Regions from separate parts of the Homo sapiens genome. Here region 2 is linked to region 1. The links come from fine-mapping of genetic effects on gene expression. Tissue or cell type: lung. Region 1 holds a variant in brackets; the other region holds the start of a gene. All regions are shown on one strand. Distances are from middle to middle.

The links. PIP is the estimated chance that this variant, and not a neighbour inherited with it, causes the effect.
Region 2: it holds the start of C8B, and the variant in region 1 is fine-mapped to the expression of C8B in lung (TOPMed, PIP above 0.99).

The regions. Positions count from the first base shown.
Region 1 is chr1:56,906,299-56,914,298 of GRCh38, reverse strand. It overlaps C8A (complement C8 alpha chain), which reads right to left. Exons shown (of 11, transcript NM_000562.3): 8 at 7,507-7,632; 9 at 6,186-6,343; 10 at 1,674-1,896. Among named protein-coding and RNA genes, the nearest start is that of C8A, 56 kb to the right of the region's middle. The variant G/A (reference allele first, on the strand shown) is at 4,543.
Region 2 is chr1:56,961,827-56,969,826 of GRCh38, reverse strand. It overlaps C8B (complement C8 beta chain), which reads left to right and starts at 3,812. Exons shown (of 12, transcript NM_000066.4): 1 at 3,812-3,970. The coding sequence starts at 3,879. It overlaps LOC112267900 (a long non-coding RNA gene), which reads right to left and starts at 5,855. Exons shown (of 8, transcript XR_007066117.1): 1 at 5,770-5,855; 2 at 71-247.

The sequences.
Region 1 (8,000 bases):
CCCTCATTCTTGCTGCAGTACATGCAGAAGAAAGTCCTCCCTCATTAAGCCCTAATCCCTTTGCTATAGCTTCTCTCCTTTAGTCCTACAACCTAATCTCAGTGGCCATAGAATACAAGTTCCATGTCCTCCCACATGGCAGTTTATGTGGGACTTGTCCTTTCTGAGTCTTTCTTCTTCATGCCTAAAATTCCCAATCTTTCCAGATCTTCTTAATACATAGGTTTGAGCCTTCCCACTTCTCTGGATTGCCTGCTTTGCTTTGTCAGTATCCGGTGAGGTGTGGCACCAAGAACAAAAATCTTGGTACGCCAGAGAAGAATCTTATCCTGAGCTCTTGACTTTTGTTAACCCGTCTTTCACTGTGGGGCCGTCTGTATCAGGCTCCCACTGAGTGAACTGGGACTAATGGTTGGCCTGTTTCTTTCACATGGCCATTGAGCCACATGGCTTCAGCCCCCTCCACCCTGTGCTTCAACCCTTTGTTTTCTGGAGTCAATTGTAATACCTTGGATTTCCCATCCAGACTTCTTTGTTTTTCCCTTTGTGTTTTCTTCATTGCAATAGCCAATTTAGGTTAATGTGTACATTGATTAGGTAGTCCATACATTTTGCCATCATTTTATGTACCATACAAACAGTTTTATGTGCCTGAAAAAGTGGGAGCTTAGGAATTGGAACATGCATACTCTTGGGGCTAAAAGGGAACATAGATGAGAAAGCTAAGCCCCAGAAAGATGTGAACAATTAGTGTCTCACAGTGACTTAGTAAAGTATCTGGGATTCACATCCAAGTCCCCAGACTTCTTCATTTTTAAGCAATGGACTTTTAATGCTTGTTTGATAACTTTCTTCCCTGGTACCAGTTGGTTCATGTTGCAGTTATCTGCATTTAAACCTTCCTTGCCCAAACCTTGTTTTTAGTCATAACTTCTTACACTATAATGACAACTACCTATCTCTTTTAGTGAGTTTAATTGTGTTTCCTCAAAAGATATGTTCAAGGCAAACCCTTGTTACCTGTGAACATGACCTTATTTGGAAATAGGATCTTTGCAGATGAAATCACATTAAAATGAGGTCATGCTGGATTAGGGTGGTCTCAAACCCAGTGACTGGTGGTTCTTATAAGAAGAGAAACAGAGTTATAGAGGGAAGAATGCCACACGAAGACAGAGGCAGAGACTGGAGCGATGCATCTATAAGCCGAGAAATGCCAAGGATTGCTGACAACTACCAAAAGATAGGAGAGGGACTTGAACCACATACTCCCCCAGTCTCTGGCAGGAACCAACCTAGCCAACACACCTGACTTTGGACTTCTAGCTTCCAGAGGTCTGAAACAATACACTTCTGTTGTTATAAGCCACCTAATTTGTGATGATTTGTTATGGTAGCCCTAGGAAACTAGTTTATTCCTCCAGAAATGAATCCTGTTGTCCATATACATCTTGGCGAAAAACAGTTCTCATCTGAGAAAAGGTCTTGATGGCAAGGACAAAGCACAAGAACCACTAAATGTGATGGGTGAGTAACAGAACTCTCAAGGGTGGCTCCTAGGTATTGGCTAGGAGAGCTCCAAAAGGAGGGGCCGGGAACCCCAAAAGTCCTTTTTGCACTGGCCCCTTTGAGCTGGGACAGGCTGGAACTGGGTGGGGATGCACGGACCTTACCTTCTGTCTGTGTTTGCTCACAGGCAGCACCCAAGCTACCCAGGCGGCACTGGCACCTGCAGCTGGTGCCCTCGAGGATGGGCACCCCATTGTTGAAGCAAGGCCCACATCGGCAGGCATTGAATTCCATCAGATACTGGTCCAAGGCGCGGCGCAGGTTCTGGCGCTTGGCCTCCAGAGGCCCCAGGCTTGTGTGCCGCAGCACCTCGTGGATAGGCTGCATCTGTGGGCACAGAAAGAACACAGGGCCCCTCCCTGGGCTCTATCTACCTTCCCAGAGCCCAAGAACCGGCCACCAAGCTTCTGGAAGGCCTGATACATGCCAGGCACAGACACAGACACCCAATTTATCCCACCACCTTGGATCCTCACAGCCATTCTGTGACATAGGTATTAAACTCCTCAGCTCCTAGCAGAAGAAAGGGAGGCTCAGTGTTTAAGTGACTGGCTCAGAAGCACACAATTATTAAGAAATAATAATGAAGATCGGGTTTAGAGAGGGGCAGTTAAAAGTCCCAGCCCACACAGCTAGGACGTGAGGCACATTTACTTAGCTTTTACCATATGACAGGCCTTTCCCCTATATCATCTCCCTTAATCCTCACAGTGATCCTGGAGCAATGTGTGCATTCCTCACAAGAATCACCTACTTAACTCTGAAACCTGTGCACTCCCAATCCCAAGTGGGCTTAGAAGTTATTTGTGCCAACTCATCTGCCCTCTCCACCACATTTAGGAAGCAGGAAAAGTGTGTGTTTTAAATGTCAGCCTTCAATGCAGGAATTAATAAAATCCTTGACAGGTAGTGTTGTTGTCATTGCTGAGCAATTTCCCTAATGGTGTAACTGTGGCAGCTACATGTGGCTGGGTGGGAGTTATTTACAACTGATGCAACCCATTCCAGACATGACCGTAGTTCAGGGTTTTTCAACTTCGGCACTATTGCGTATCAAGTTGGATAATTCTTTACTGGCAGGAGTGGGCTGTCCTTGTATTGTAGGCTGTTTAGCAGAGTCTCTGGCCTCTACCCACTACATGCCAGCAGCCCCCTTCCAGTTGTGAAAACCAAGACTGTCTCCTGACATTGCCAAATATTCCTTGGGGGAAACAATTGCCTCGACTGAGAAGTAGTAGATGAAGCACAAGGAGGATTGAATCTGGAGCCGGAAAACCTGGCTTCAAACCCCAGCTACCCTGCTTCCGACTGTGTGATCTTTGGCACATGACACACGGAGCCTCCTTCCTCATCTGTAAAGGGAGAACAGTCATCACACCCTCCAGGATTATTGTGAGGATTAAGGGAGATGATATAGGGGAAAGACCTGTCACATGGTAAAACTAAGTAAATGTGACTCACTTTCTAGCTATGTGGCCTAACTGCCCCTGTCTAAGTCTGATCCTCATTATCTAGAAAATGGGAATAATACTTAATTCCCAGATTTCTTATGAGGATCTAAAGAAGTACTGAATGTGAGATACTACTGTACAAGGGAAGAATGACAAAAAATAAAGCACCATTTTTGTTAGTTGTATGTGATAATAGTAAAAAAAAAAAAAAAACCCATGTTTTTCAAATTGCATGCATATGTGGTTATCTTCAGCATGCTTATAATGTTATACATGTTAATACTTCATAAAAGGAAGGCACTTCTCCAGATCTCTCATTTTAAGGAGAGGAACCTGAGGCCCCCAAAGGGGAAGTGATTTGCCAAGGTCACAGAGCAAGTCAGCAGTAGGACTGTGCCAGAGCAAGTCAGCAGTAGGACTGAGCCACATTACGGTAGTCGCACTTCCCTGGAAACAGAAGTCAACTGAGGGCACTGGCAATAGCTTTGTCTGAGTTCCTGGAAATGTGTACAGAAAGACCTGTGGCAAACAGACTTTGGCCTGTGGTCAGGGGTTGCGGTTGAGGTCAGCAGGCAGGTAATATCAGGACTGGTAGGGTCCCCAGCCAAGGGGAGAAAACCACTTACTGGAAGTTCAGAGAATTCAGTCCCATTGTTAGGAAGTCAGCGTAGAATAGGCTGCCCTGTTGGCCTTCTCAAAGATGACTGTTAGTTCCAGGGAAAGCCAGGACCATTGAGCAATTTCTCTTTGACTTTCCAGTGGGGCTCTGCATCCAGTTCCCCACCTCAGATCTCTCCCTCCCAGGAACCACAGGAAGAGGGGAAGCCCTCCATAGGGTGGACTGGTGGAGTTAAAAGAGGAGAGAGAGGTGGAGAAGAGGGATCTTGGGACGTTAGAGCTTGAAAAGGTATTGGCAGTGATCTTGTTCCCGTTTTGCAGATGAGAAAAAAGACTCAGAGGTCAAATGATACAATATAGCAACACAAGATAATGCATAATAATATATCACACAACACAACATAACAAAATAACATAACACAAACGTAACATAGCAGGACTCCTACATTCACAAACTCTAAGCACTTGCTATAAATAAGCACTGCTGAACTCTGGGGTATATGCAAGTGAATAACATGCTGTTTCCACTCTGAACATCAGGCTCCAAATAACCCCTACCTGGTCCCCTTGTCTGTAATCTCTCTCTTCTTCAAATCACCCTTTATTTCCCTGTGAGCATTCTCTTTTTAAAACACAGTGCTAGCTGTGTTACTTCCCTGCTATAAAGCCTGCCCGTGGCTTAATGCATTGAGTCCGAACTTCTCAGGGGGCAACATGAGTTGTGAAGAGACTGAGGATGTTAGTGTCAGTCAAACATGACTCGAGTTGGACTCTATCATTTGCCAATTTCGAGATATTGTGCTGAACCTGTTTCTTCAACTGACATTTACCAAGTAACTTCTGATCTCCTGAGTCTTGTGAAATATCTCTATGTGATAGAGCAGGAAACTGAGGCTCAGTGAGG[G/A]AAGTAACTTGTCAAAGGTCACACATTGAAAAAGCAGCTGAGCTATGACCTAAATTATGTCTTTCTCCTCCCTCTCACCCAATCCTGCCAAAGCCTGGGCTCTTTCCCAAAAGACTGTAGTGGTCTTCTCCAAATGATGACCCTGAGTCTTCCCAGGGAAGTTTTTCTCAAGGCAAACACCAAGTTCACCTCTTGCCTATGAAAGTTTATGTATTACTCCTGATATCAATTTTACAGTTTTTGCTCAAATCACTAATAGCTTGATGATATCAATTTTCAAACCTTATGTGAATTACAGTTGCATGAAAATGGTCTCTTACTTATTGAAGAAGAAATAAAATCAAGGTTGATCCATCTGACCTGTTTCTTCACAGAAACCAGGGTGTTAGAATAGACTTCTAGGTTTAACTGTAGGCATATGTTTTAAGAGGAGGACTATATCCATATCTGGGATTTTAAATATATGTAGAAAAATAGGCAAGGGTGGGGAGAAAATGGATGAGAAAATGATGATCTTTTGCTTCAAAGTCTGAAATGCAGTCTCTTAAATGGACTACACCACATATGGACAGAAATAGTTTGGCAACTGCTAGAACAATCACTTCCTTTGTGGTTAAAATAGAATTTTTCACACTTTGTGAGGTTAAGCATTTAAGGCAGGGTTTCTCAATTTTGGCAGTATTGACACTTGAGGCCAGATATTTCTTTGCTGTGGGGTCTGTTCTGTGCATGGAAGGATGTTTAGCAGCATCCCAGGCCTCTGCCTCCTGGATGCCAGTAACACCTCCTTGCCCCACTGTGGGTGGTGACAAAAATATCAAAAACATCTCCAGACATTTCCATATTTCCTCTGTGGAGGAAAACTGCCCCTAGTAGCTGAGAGCCACTGCTTTAATGGAGGTGCTAGGATAGAGAGAAGTGAGAACTGGATACGAAGTCCAAAGGTCTGAAATCCAAGCATTGCCACCTCTGAGCTATATGACCTCAAATATTTTCACTTGATTTTTCAGAGCCTGTTTCCTAATCTTTTTAATGGGAGGGAATAGTATCTATGACAGAGGTTCCTCTAATGGAGAGATGAGATAACTGTGGAGGATGGTAGCAAATTGCAGCCTGGGTCCAAGTCCAACCCACAGCTTATTTTTGTATGGCCTTTGAGCCAGGAATGACTTTTATATTTTTAAAGAGATTTGATGAAGAAGAGAAAGAAGAAGAACTAATACTACTACTTTGTGTATTATAGATTGTATGTGTCCCACAAAGCCTGAAATATTTACTATCTGACCTTTTACAGAAAAAGTTTGCCACCCCCTAATTTAGCCCATGTGATTTTTGAAGTGTTTTATGTATAAATAAAAATCATGATTTGCCTAATGTGACCTAATGCTGAGGAACTTCTGGGATGAGCAGTGTAAAACTAGGCACTGACTAGATCATCAGTTTCTGATCCCAGCTGTCCCGTGGCCTGGGTCTGAAGTCATGCACTCCCTGGAGTCAGGCACAAGCAAGGCCACTAGTTCAGTGTGCCATTACATTTAATCTTGTTCTTTGATGGGCTCATAATAAGAAATATGAAATGATCTGGTCTGCTTCACTTTCATTCCTCATGGACGTAGAGTTTCTTCAACTGCGAAAAGACTTACCTCAAAATCGATAACAACAGGATTATACTTTAATGACCTCCCCCAGGAACGGTATGTAATGGTGCTCCTGTTCTGTGCCAAGCCACCGCTCCAGCCAGAACTGCCACCTCGCACCCGAGAAATAATGTCTTCCACAGCCATGGCCTTCCTGGCCCTTTCTGCCATCAAGAGGATAAACTGCATTAACTCATTTCCCAAAAAGCCCAAGGACTGGTTGACAAACCCCACTAATGAGATTTGGAAGAAAGTTTACATGTTTTCCTTAGATGTTTACCATTCTTCTTCTCTTCTTGGTTAGCTAGCAGGACAAGGCAGAAGGGAAGGACCAAGACTCAGAAATAGACCCATCCTCTGGAGTGGAGAAATACTGAGAGGACAGCCCAGACCACATGGAGGATAAGGGGAACAGGAAATGGGTGGTCATTCATTTATTCATTCATTCACTCATTCATTCTTACATCAAATATTTACTCAGTGCCTGCTATATGCCGAATAGGTTCAATCAAATATTATAGGTGCTATAGGTACAACAGATGTTACTATAGGACTCAATGTGGGCACAGTGAAAGAAACTAGTTAGCTATACAGTAGGGGGTGTGGGAGGCAGTCAGAAAGAAAGGTGAGTTGTCTACAAAGGTTAGTGAATATTTGCCAGGTAAATGAAGAGAGGATAGAAAGAGAGAAGAAACAATTTGACTTAAGGCCCTGAGGTACAGGTAACCTAATGCAATAGGAATAGCTTGAACCTGATTAATATCTATTCCACCCACTGCATTATAAACTTCTTCATCATCCCTGTATCCTCTGTGTCTCCCACTTGGGGAAAAAAACTCAATACCTGTTTGATGAATGGATGAGTAAATGAACACATGAACACCCCAACTGACTTGTTCAGGAAATGCCATAAAATATTCCTGTACAATCCCTCTCTAATAATTATTCTTTGAGCTTGGACTCGGTACCATATTCTCTCTCAACAGCCTTATTTCCTCCCTCTGAACTGTAATATGATGGGTCTTCATTCAAACAGCCCATTTTCCAGATTCCTTTCATTCTAGTTCTTACTTGGACCTTTGTCTAACCCTTGAAATCTAGGAGGGTGCCCCGTATAAAGGTAGGTATTTCTAAGGTGATTTTAAGCCCATGGTAGATTCAAAATAAAGCCACTGCAGGTCATTGTTTTGGGGTATTTAGCGTCTATGCAGTCTGATCATTGACTAAAATGCAATCAACTGGGAAAAAAAATAGCTTCCATGTCCCAGTGTGTGTCCAAAGGAAAGCCTGGCTTCTCTTTTTGGGAGATCTATTACTAAACACTTGCCAGTTTTGCCACCTCCAAATTTTTTACAATGGTCTCCTGATAAACCTCCACCAACATTTATTTTGTCTTCATATTGAATGCCCAAGGAGCCTCCAAAACATGTCGTGATATCTCTGCTGGTAATACCTGCAACAGGGAGACAGAGAAACACAAAATGCTGAGTTATTAAAAGACACTTGACATGGTACAACTATGTCAGAGTAGTAAAAGCTAGCTTCAGCTTTGGAGTCCAAAAGGCCTGGGTTGAAAGCCCGGTTCTTTAATCCAATTTCAGTTTTCTCTTCTGCATGGTTCCAACCAAAATAATTCTTGAAATGAGAAGAGATATGTGTTGCACATACTAGTTGGTAAAAAATGCTAGCACTCTTTCCTTTGACCATTCTTTATTGAGCCACCTTGAGGCAATAATTCTATCTCATCCTTCTGCATTTGCCCCCATGCCTACCTCAGTGCCCGGGCCATGATAGGCACCATTACCCTGAACTTTTGCACAT
Region 2 (8,000 bases), 56 kb before region 1:
TATTATTGCAGCAACAATAAACCACCAAATCCCAATAACATAGCACAACAAAAGTTGAATTCTAACTCACATGAAGTCCTTTATGGGTCAACATGGGCTCTCCTCCATCCAATGACTCAGGGGTTTAGGCTTCCTTCACCATAAGACATTGTTCTGTCAACACATGCTTCCAAATCCACAGGACAGAAGACAGAAATGGACAGGGCACACTGGCTCTTAAGTGCTTCAGCCCGAAAGTGTCACATGTCTGTAAGAAATTGCCGAATGTCCACGAATTCCTTCCAAAATTGTAGGCATACCCCTTTGCAATGTGACTCTGCTCTTCCTCCCATCAACAGGTATAAGCTCTGTCTCTAGCTCTTGAATGTGGGCTTGGCCATTGCTTCAGCCAAGGAGACATTAAGAAACATCAGGCAAGCAGAAGTTTGGAAAGCACTTGTGCACTGGGGCTTGTCTTTTCTTGCTGCTTTTTGAAACCATTAGATCACCCTGAGATCAAGCCTGAGTTAGTCTATTTGGAGTCATGTGGCCCATTTACTTCATCACTTCAGCCAACAGCCAGTGCTAACTGACAGACAGAATGAATCATCAGGCAGGTGAGTAAGGCCATCCTGGACCAACCAGGCTCCTGCTGACCTACCAGTTGGCTGAACCAAGGCAAGGCCAGCACCCATTTTAGCCTAGGCCTATTTGATGACCCAAGGAATTGTGAGCTGATAAATGATGATTGTTTTAGTCTACAATTTTGGGATTATTTGTTATGCAGCAAAAGCTAACTAATACAAAAATAGGTACCAGGAGTGGAGTGCTGCCATAGCAGAAACATGAAAAGTGGCATTGGCTGTGGAACTGGGTGGAGCCTGGAAAATCAGTCAATAAAAGTTGGAAAAACAACAAACTGTTAGTGGATCCGCAGACCTAGAGTTACAAATTCCTTCATATCGTTTAAAGGCCTAGAGACATATGATCAGTTTCAAAGCTCTCGCATGGTCAGAGATGAGATCTATAGCCCTGAGTAAGAGCAGCTAGACCAGAAGAGCAGTGTGGTGTGATAACTGTGAAGACTTAAAGCAGTGCTGGCACATCCTAAGGGCAAGGGGAAGCTTCAGAGCTAGAAAAAGGAGCATTTAGGAGTCAGAAAAAAAAGTGTATCAAGCCAAAGATGTCCTACTAACCAGCTGTGGAAACAGCTGTGAAGCCCCATCTTAGAGGCTTGGAAGATGATATTATGTTTCTTGGCTTATTGTCAAAATCAAACAAGATGATGTATGGGAAAACTGTTAAATTGTTAAGAACTGTCCCTGAAAAATATGTGTATTACTATCACTAAAGCCTGAGGCTGCCGTCCTCCAGGCGGGATCTCAGGTGAGCTGCACTGGGAAACCACCAGGGGGCGCGATGAGGTTGGAACTCCGGGAGACCTGGGGGCGCCTGGAGCGTTAAGAACCCCAGGGGAATCTATTGGGAAGGCTTTCTTGAGCAAGTGACATTAATATAAAACTCGAATAATGAGTCGTATTTAGCTAAGTGGCACATACTCTGGACAGAAGGAACGGCATGCAAAAATCCTGGAGGTGAGAGAGCACAGGATTCACTCGTGTAACTGTCCTCTCTAAACCTGCAGGCTCCTCCGTGAGTACATCAGGTTGAGGAGGTCGAAGGGGAGCCCTGTCTTCTAAGGGTTTGGCTTCTCTTAAAGGCAGGCAGATAGGAGACAGGACATGGATCTTTCTTGAAACACAAGTTTCTGCTTGTTTACAAATGATTAACCACCACAATCAATTGCGTCAAAGTTCAGGTCAATTCATCCTTTGGGACAACGGTGACATGGAGTCTTGCACCTAGGCTTATGACAACTGGAATGCATCCTGGGTGGTCTGGCAGCAGAACTTGTGTTCTGTGTTTTGGACACAATTAATGTGAGAGGACTACCATCTTCTGTGGCTTTCCCATCCATCCCCTCACTATACTTCCTTATTTGATTCTCCAACCCCAACCCAGCTACTCGGCAGGGGTGGCAGGAGGGGGAGGCTTCCCGTTTTGTACGTTCAAACCCAAAACAAACTTATCAAGTAGGTAGTAATGAATTATTATCCCTATTTCACAGATGAGAAAACAGAGTCTTAGAGAAACTCTGTAACTGTGTTTAAGGAAAGCAAATCCAGTGTTCTTTCTACTAGCCCACCCTCATACCTTGCAAGCTGCCTCTCCCATGTGAGGTTCCTCACCCACATCTGCAATAGCAAAAGCAACAGGACGCCATCCAACACGTGGACTCAGCCCTTTATGCGTTGCAGGTTGGTTTTGTAAATGCCAGGTTGGTGCAGTTTGGACTTTAATATGTTGATTCTGGGGAGTCAGGGATGGTTTTCAGGAAGGTAGGTTTGAGAACCTCAGTCATTTGTATCTTTTGGGATGCAAACAATAACAACAACAGCACATATATATTTAGATAATTATTTTCATGTAGTTATTTCCTGGGTTTTTTTTGTTTTGTTTTGTTTTGTTTTATTTTGAGACGGAGTCTCGCTCTGTCACCCAGGCTGGAGTGCAGTGGCGCGATCTCGGCTCACTGCAAGCTCTGCCTCCCAGGTTCACGCCATTCTCCTGCCTCAGCCTCCCGAGTAGCTGGGACTACAGGCGCCCAACACCATGCCTGGCTAATTTTTTTTGTATTTTTGGTAGAGACGGGGTTTCACCATGTTAGCCAGGATGGTCTCGATTTCCTGACCTCGTGGTCCGCCCGCCGCGGCCTCCCAAAGTGTCATGTAGTTATTTCTATAATGCCTATTTGTTCAACAATTACACATTTAGTATTTGGTCTGACTCTCCCAACTGTGAGTGGTAAGTTGTCATAGTCCTCCTAATTTTACATATGAAGAAACAGAATCAGAGACAGTCAATAAAAATACCAGCTCACTTATAGAGAGTGCACATAGAATGTGCCAGGCAATGTTCAACATGTTTTGAACATGTTGTGAAGATTAAATAAATCTAATTTATTTAATAATAATAATTATAATTAATTATAATTACAATAATAATTAATAATAATCTAATTTATTTAATCTTCACAACAACCCGGTGAGGTTGGTATTATTATTATCCCTGTTTTATTGATGAAGGAACTTAGGCCCAGAGAGGGTTAGTAATTTTCTCTGGCCACACAGCTGGTGAATCATACAGAAGCAATTTGAAGTCAGGTAGATGGGTTCTAGAGCCCTACAGCCTCTTACTGACTTGCTCAACATCATGTAACTGGAAAGAGGCAAACATGGAATTCAAACCTTGGCCTGTCTGACTCCAAACCCTGAATTCTACTAAGTAATAATAGCTGACATATCTGAGCGCTGAACATAGGCCTGTTCTAAACATTTCCTTATATTAACGTGTTTAATTCTCACCACTTAGCAAGTAAGGAGAGTAAGGCACAGAAGTAAAGCAACTTGCCCATAGTCCAAAGCTGTTAGGTTGGTGCAAAAGTAATTGTGGTTTTTGCCATTAAAAGCAATGACAAAAACTGCAATTACTTTTGCACCAACCTAGTCAGTGGCAGAGAATGTACTTGAACCCAGGCTGTCTAGACCTAGATCCCACAGTCCTTGCCACCTCACTAATAGCCTGTCCACTTGGCAGCTTACCCTAAAGTTACAGAGGAATAAACACCATGCTGCTACAGATTTTTCATTATTCTGGTTGGTTTCCAGAGTGACAGGTAAGTTTTTGGTCTGTGCAAAGTCTGTTTCCAGTCACTAGTGGCTTTCTGTTTACTTTGCAGAGCTATTTGCTCTTGGGGACAGAAGCTGACAGTGGCACTCACAGCACAGGCTTGTTATGGGTCTAGCAGCCTCTGTGGCATCTCCTGTCACATTGGGAAAATGAAGAATTCCAGGACATGGGCTTGGAGGGCGCCGGTGGAGCTATTTCTTCTCTGTGCTGCCCTGGGCTGTCTCAGTTTGCCTGGCTCCAGGTAAGTGACAGTTACCAATAATTCCCTGATCAATAATATGACAGGGAAGGTGCAGCCACATGATGCTGACCATCTCTTTGTTGCATGCCTATTGAATGAGGAACGTCTCTTAAGGCAATTTGCATGCATCTGATAACATACTATCAACAACTCTTTTCAAATTATTGTGGAACCAAGTAGCTGATTTCAACAAAAGTTCCTGTAAGAAACTGACAGGTTTAAATGTATTTTGTCATGCTGAGAAGAATAGGATATTTTTTCTGTATTCTGAACAAAGCCTCCGTGTGATTCTTTATGAAAAAGAAAGTTTGTTACATACAGAGGACAAAAGAGCAAATTCATGAAATGATTTTAATAAATGAGATTGACCTACTCTACCTGCTCATCAACCCCAAATCTTCAGATTCTCAGGTTCTTTCCCACCCCCTTCTTACACACACACACACACACACACACACTCTCTCTCTCTCTCTCTCTCACCCCCCACAAGGTTCCCAGCAGTTAAATGCTGGCTGATTTATTTCATCATTGTTAGTCTCCATTAACAAGGTGCAAAACAAGCTAAAGAAAATATCCTAGTGGGAGCTCAAACTTGGGCTCCAGTGATAGAAGAGCCAGTGACGTAGCAATGTGGGGATGCTCCGTGTGCATGAGAAACCCCTGCCATGAGATGTTGAAGTGTGCATGTGTCCCCGGCCTCCATGTAAACACTCCTGTGGGAAGAGGGACTGTAATTCCATTCCTTTTACTTAGTCCAAAAATGAGATCTGAACAAACCTTTCACTTTATGTGAGGAGTACCTCCTACCCATGGGACACAGCCTCTGGTCTCAGTTCTGTTGAGCTGCCATTAGGAACCACAGGATGATGAGCATTCGTTCACTATCTATTGGCCACTCAATAAGTAACAGCTATTAGGATGATCAAGAAACTCCATTTAGCCCAGAGAATAACTAAGCTGCCAAGACCTTCCTTGTGTGTACTGTGTGTACACAGAGAAGCATTCAGGACCCAAGAAAATGTCTCCGGAATGGAGGACTTAAGGGAACCATAGCAACCCTATCTATAGCATTGTGCCCCTGGGTGGAGCTTTCTGTTGGGCTCTGAGGATACAGAGATGAGCCTATGTTCTCACAAAGAATGCCAACATGTGAGCATATGCTATGTGTACCGTTACAAAAGATGCTACGGGGCAGCCAGGAAACAAGGAGGGAATGATCAGCTCTACAGGGCATAGGGCCTGGAAAGGCTTCTAGAACAGAGAGTGTGAGGGCTGAATCTCTACAGGTGCGTGGGTGTTTGCCGAATGGCTAAGGGGTTGAAAGGTGTGCCAGGTAGAGGGAGCAGCACAGGCAACGGTGCGTGAGTGTGAGAGAGCTGGCTTGCTCCTGAAGCTTCCAGACACCTCAGTGGGCCTTGAACACAGGTCCCGGCAGGAAGTTGAGAGGGATGAGATAGAGTAGGAGTGAACAGGCATCATGTCATGGGCAGAGTTGGGGGATGCTGGAGTACCAGCTAAGGAACTTGAACTATATCCTCACCACAATGCATTGGGAAGCCATTGAAGAGTTGAAGCAAAGGAGTGACACGATCAAATATATATATTAGGAAGTTCACTCTGAGGTAGGGAGTGGAGGGGCAAATTGTTGATTAGAGTGCAGTCTGAGAAATTGTATTTAATTGTCACTACAACATCATGAGGTGGGTGTAATCTCTCCTTCTCGCTATGTAAGAGAACAAACTGATCCTCAGTGACAAGAAAAGATTCACGCATGTGTGGTGAGGTTTTCAAACCCTTACCTGAATCTGGGTATAGTTCTGACATCCACCTATAATCCCCATGGGGCTGTCTTGAACACGACAGGTATTTGAATTCCATCTGCGAGTAGAAGAATAGTCTTTGGTTCTGGAACAGAAAATGCTGAGACCACCTTCGTATTGGCCAAAAGAGTTTTTTGTTCTTACTTACTCTTGTAATCAAGTCAGATGATGAAATCACAATCACTGTGTCGTAAGACCTATTATGTATTGCCACTCTGTGCCAGCAACTTGGAAACATTAGCTATAATCCTCACAGCTATTCCAGGTAAGTGCTACTGTTTACAGTTTCACAGAGAGGGAAACAGAAAACATAAGTGTCCCAAGGCTATCCACTTAACAAACAGCTAACTATGGATTCAAATCCAGTTTCATTCAGGTCTCAGAGTCCCTGCACTCTCTCTGCATCCTTCTGCTTCTCACTAATGCGTTGTCCCCTCCCCACCCCCCACCACCCCCCAACCTCCACATTGTGTATCTGACTTGTTGGCCTCTGTGCTGTTTCTCCATCTCTGGGCCACACATTTGTTGCCTTGAGATGTTGCTTTAAATTTCATGTCTACCACAGCAAACGACAGAGAGAAGAGAAATTGAAAACCTGCCACCTAGAAGCTGCCCCTTCTAGCAAAGAAAAAGGATGCTGTTTGCAAAGGGGATGCAGCTGCTTAACAAATTGTGTGTGACAAGAAAGTTGTTGTGTCAGGGCATTTCTACCGAAAGCCAAAATATATTGACGCACCCCATCTATATAAGCTGATGGCTTGCAATTTACTGCTGACCCAATCCTGCTGTACTGGATGGATCCATCTTTATTTTGATCAGAGACGCCTGTTAGGAAAAGAGTGGGAGACCTGGGCCCAGTTAAATGTGTCCTAATGCTGGCTACAGCATTTTCTGCATCCCCAGGAAAGACACCTCCTTGCCAGTCCTTAAGTAGAGGGGGCACATGTTCAAGGAGCTGAGCAAGGGCGTTTACTGTAGCTCTATTTGCAATCGCAAAACATTGGGAAAATATAAATGTCCCTCAAAAAGAGAAGGAATAAATTAAATGCAATGTGTGTCATATGATAGAACATCCAGACAAAAGAAATGAACTAGATCTCTTTATGAATCAACATGGATAACTTCAGAAATGCAATGTTGATTAACAAAAGTGAGTTGCAGAATCATATGTGTAAGTATGAATAAAGCACACACAAGCAATACTATAGATAGTGTATAGACATCAAATTATCTAAAAGAGACTGGAAGGAAACACACCAAATTCATGGCAATAGCCCCTCTGGGGGTAAGGTGGGGGGAGCAAAATCGAGGCTGCTGTAAAATGCAGATGTCAAAATTAAAAATTTACAAAAAGACTTGAAGCAAGTGTACCAAAGTGTGAACAACTGCCAATCTGGATGTGAGTACATGGGTGTTTATTATATTATTTCTTGTACTTCTCTAGGCATGCTTAATTTTTCAATGTTAAAAGCATACAGAGGATTTTTAATGACAGAAGTTTAGTCAGTTGGTCAAAATGTCCATCAGGTTTGTTTCTATAGAAATCCATAGGGGTGAAAGGCTCATGTTGTTCCCACACACAGAGGCCCTGAGGGAACCTAGAATTTATGTGGCTCCTCGTTAGTCCCAGGAACTAAAGATGCTGTTTAATCCTAGCCTTTCTTTCAGATTTGCATTTTATAGTACTAATAAACCACACACATCTCATCCGATGTAATTTACAAACATACTATTTATTCAGCTGGTTACTTCATTATATTGCCACCTTCCATAATGAAAATTGGGTGCAAAAATGAGAGATGTGGTGGATATAACTACTTTTTACCAAGTTCTTTCCGTAAGTGATCATCTTGCCCATTAACAGGCTTTCAAATCTCAGAGACGAAAATAATTGTGACTCTTAATAGCTAGTGTGTACATTACTTACCTGCTCAGTCTCACCTATGGCCCTGGAGTTGTCTTGGTTGCTAAAAACATAATGTAACAGTTTTGTAGTTGAAATAGGAAGAGGGTACCCTGCAGAGCTGTCAAATACATACTTAGGAGAAGCCAAATCACAGACAATATTGTTTTGTCAAACCTGGGCAAATTAGTAGATAAGAACACACTCTGAAGCCCCCCACTGGTGTGTAGCATCCTGCCTCAAGTAACCGTTTTAAAGTATCCACCTGTGGTTTCCAGTAGTCTTTGACCTTTCATTAAAGATCCAG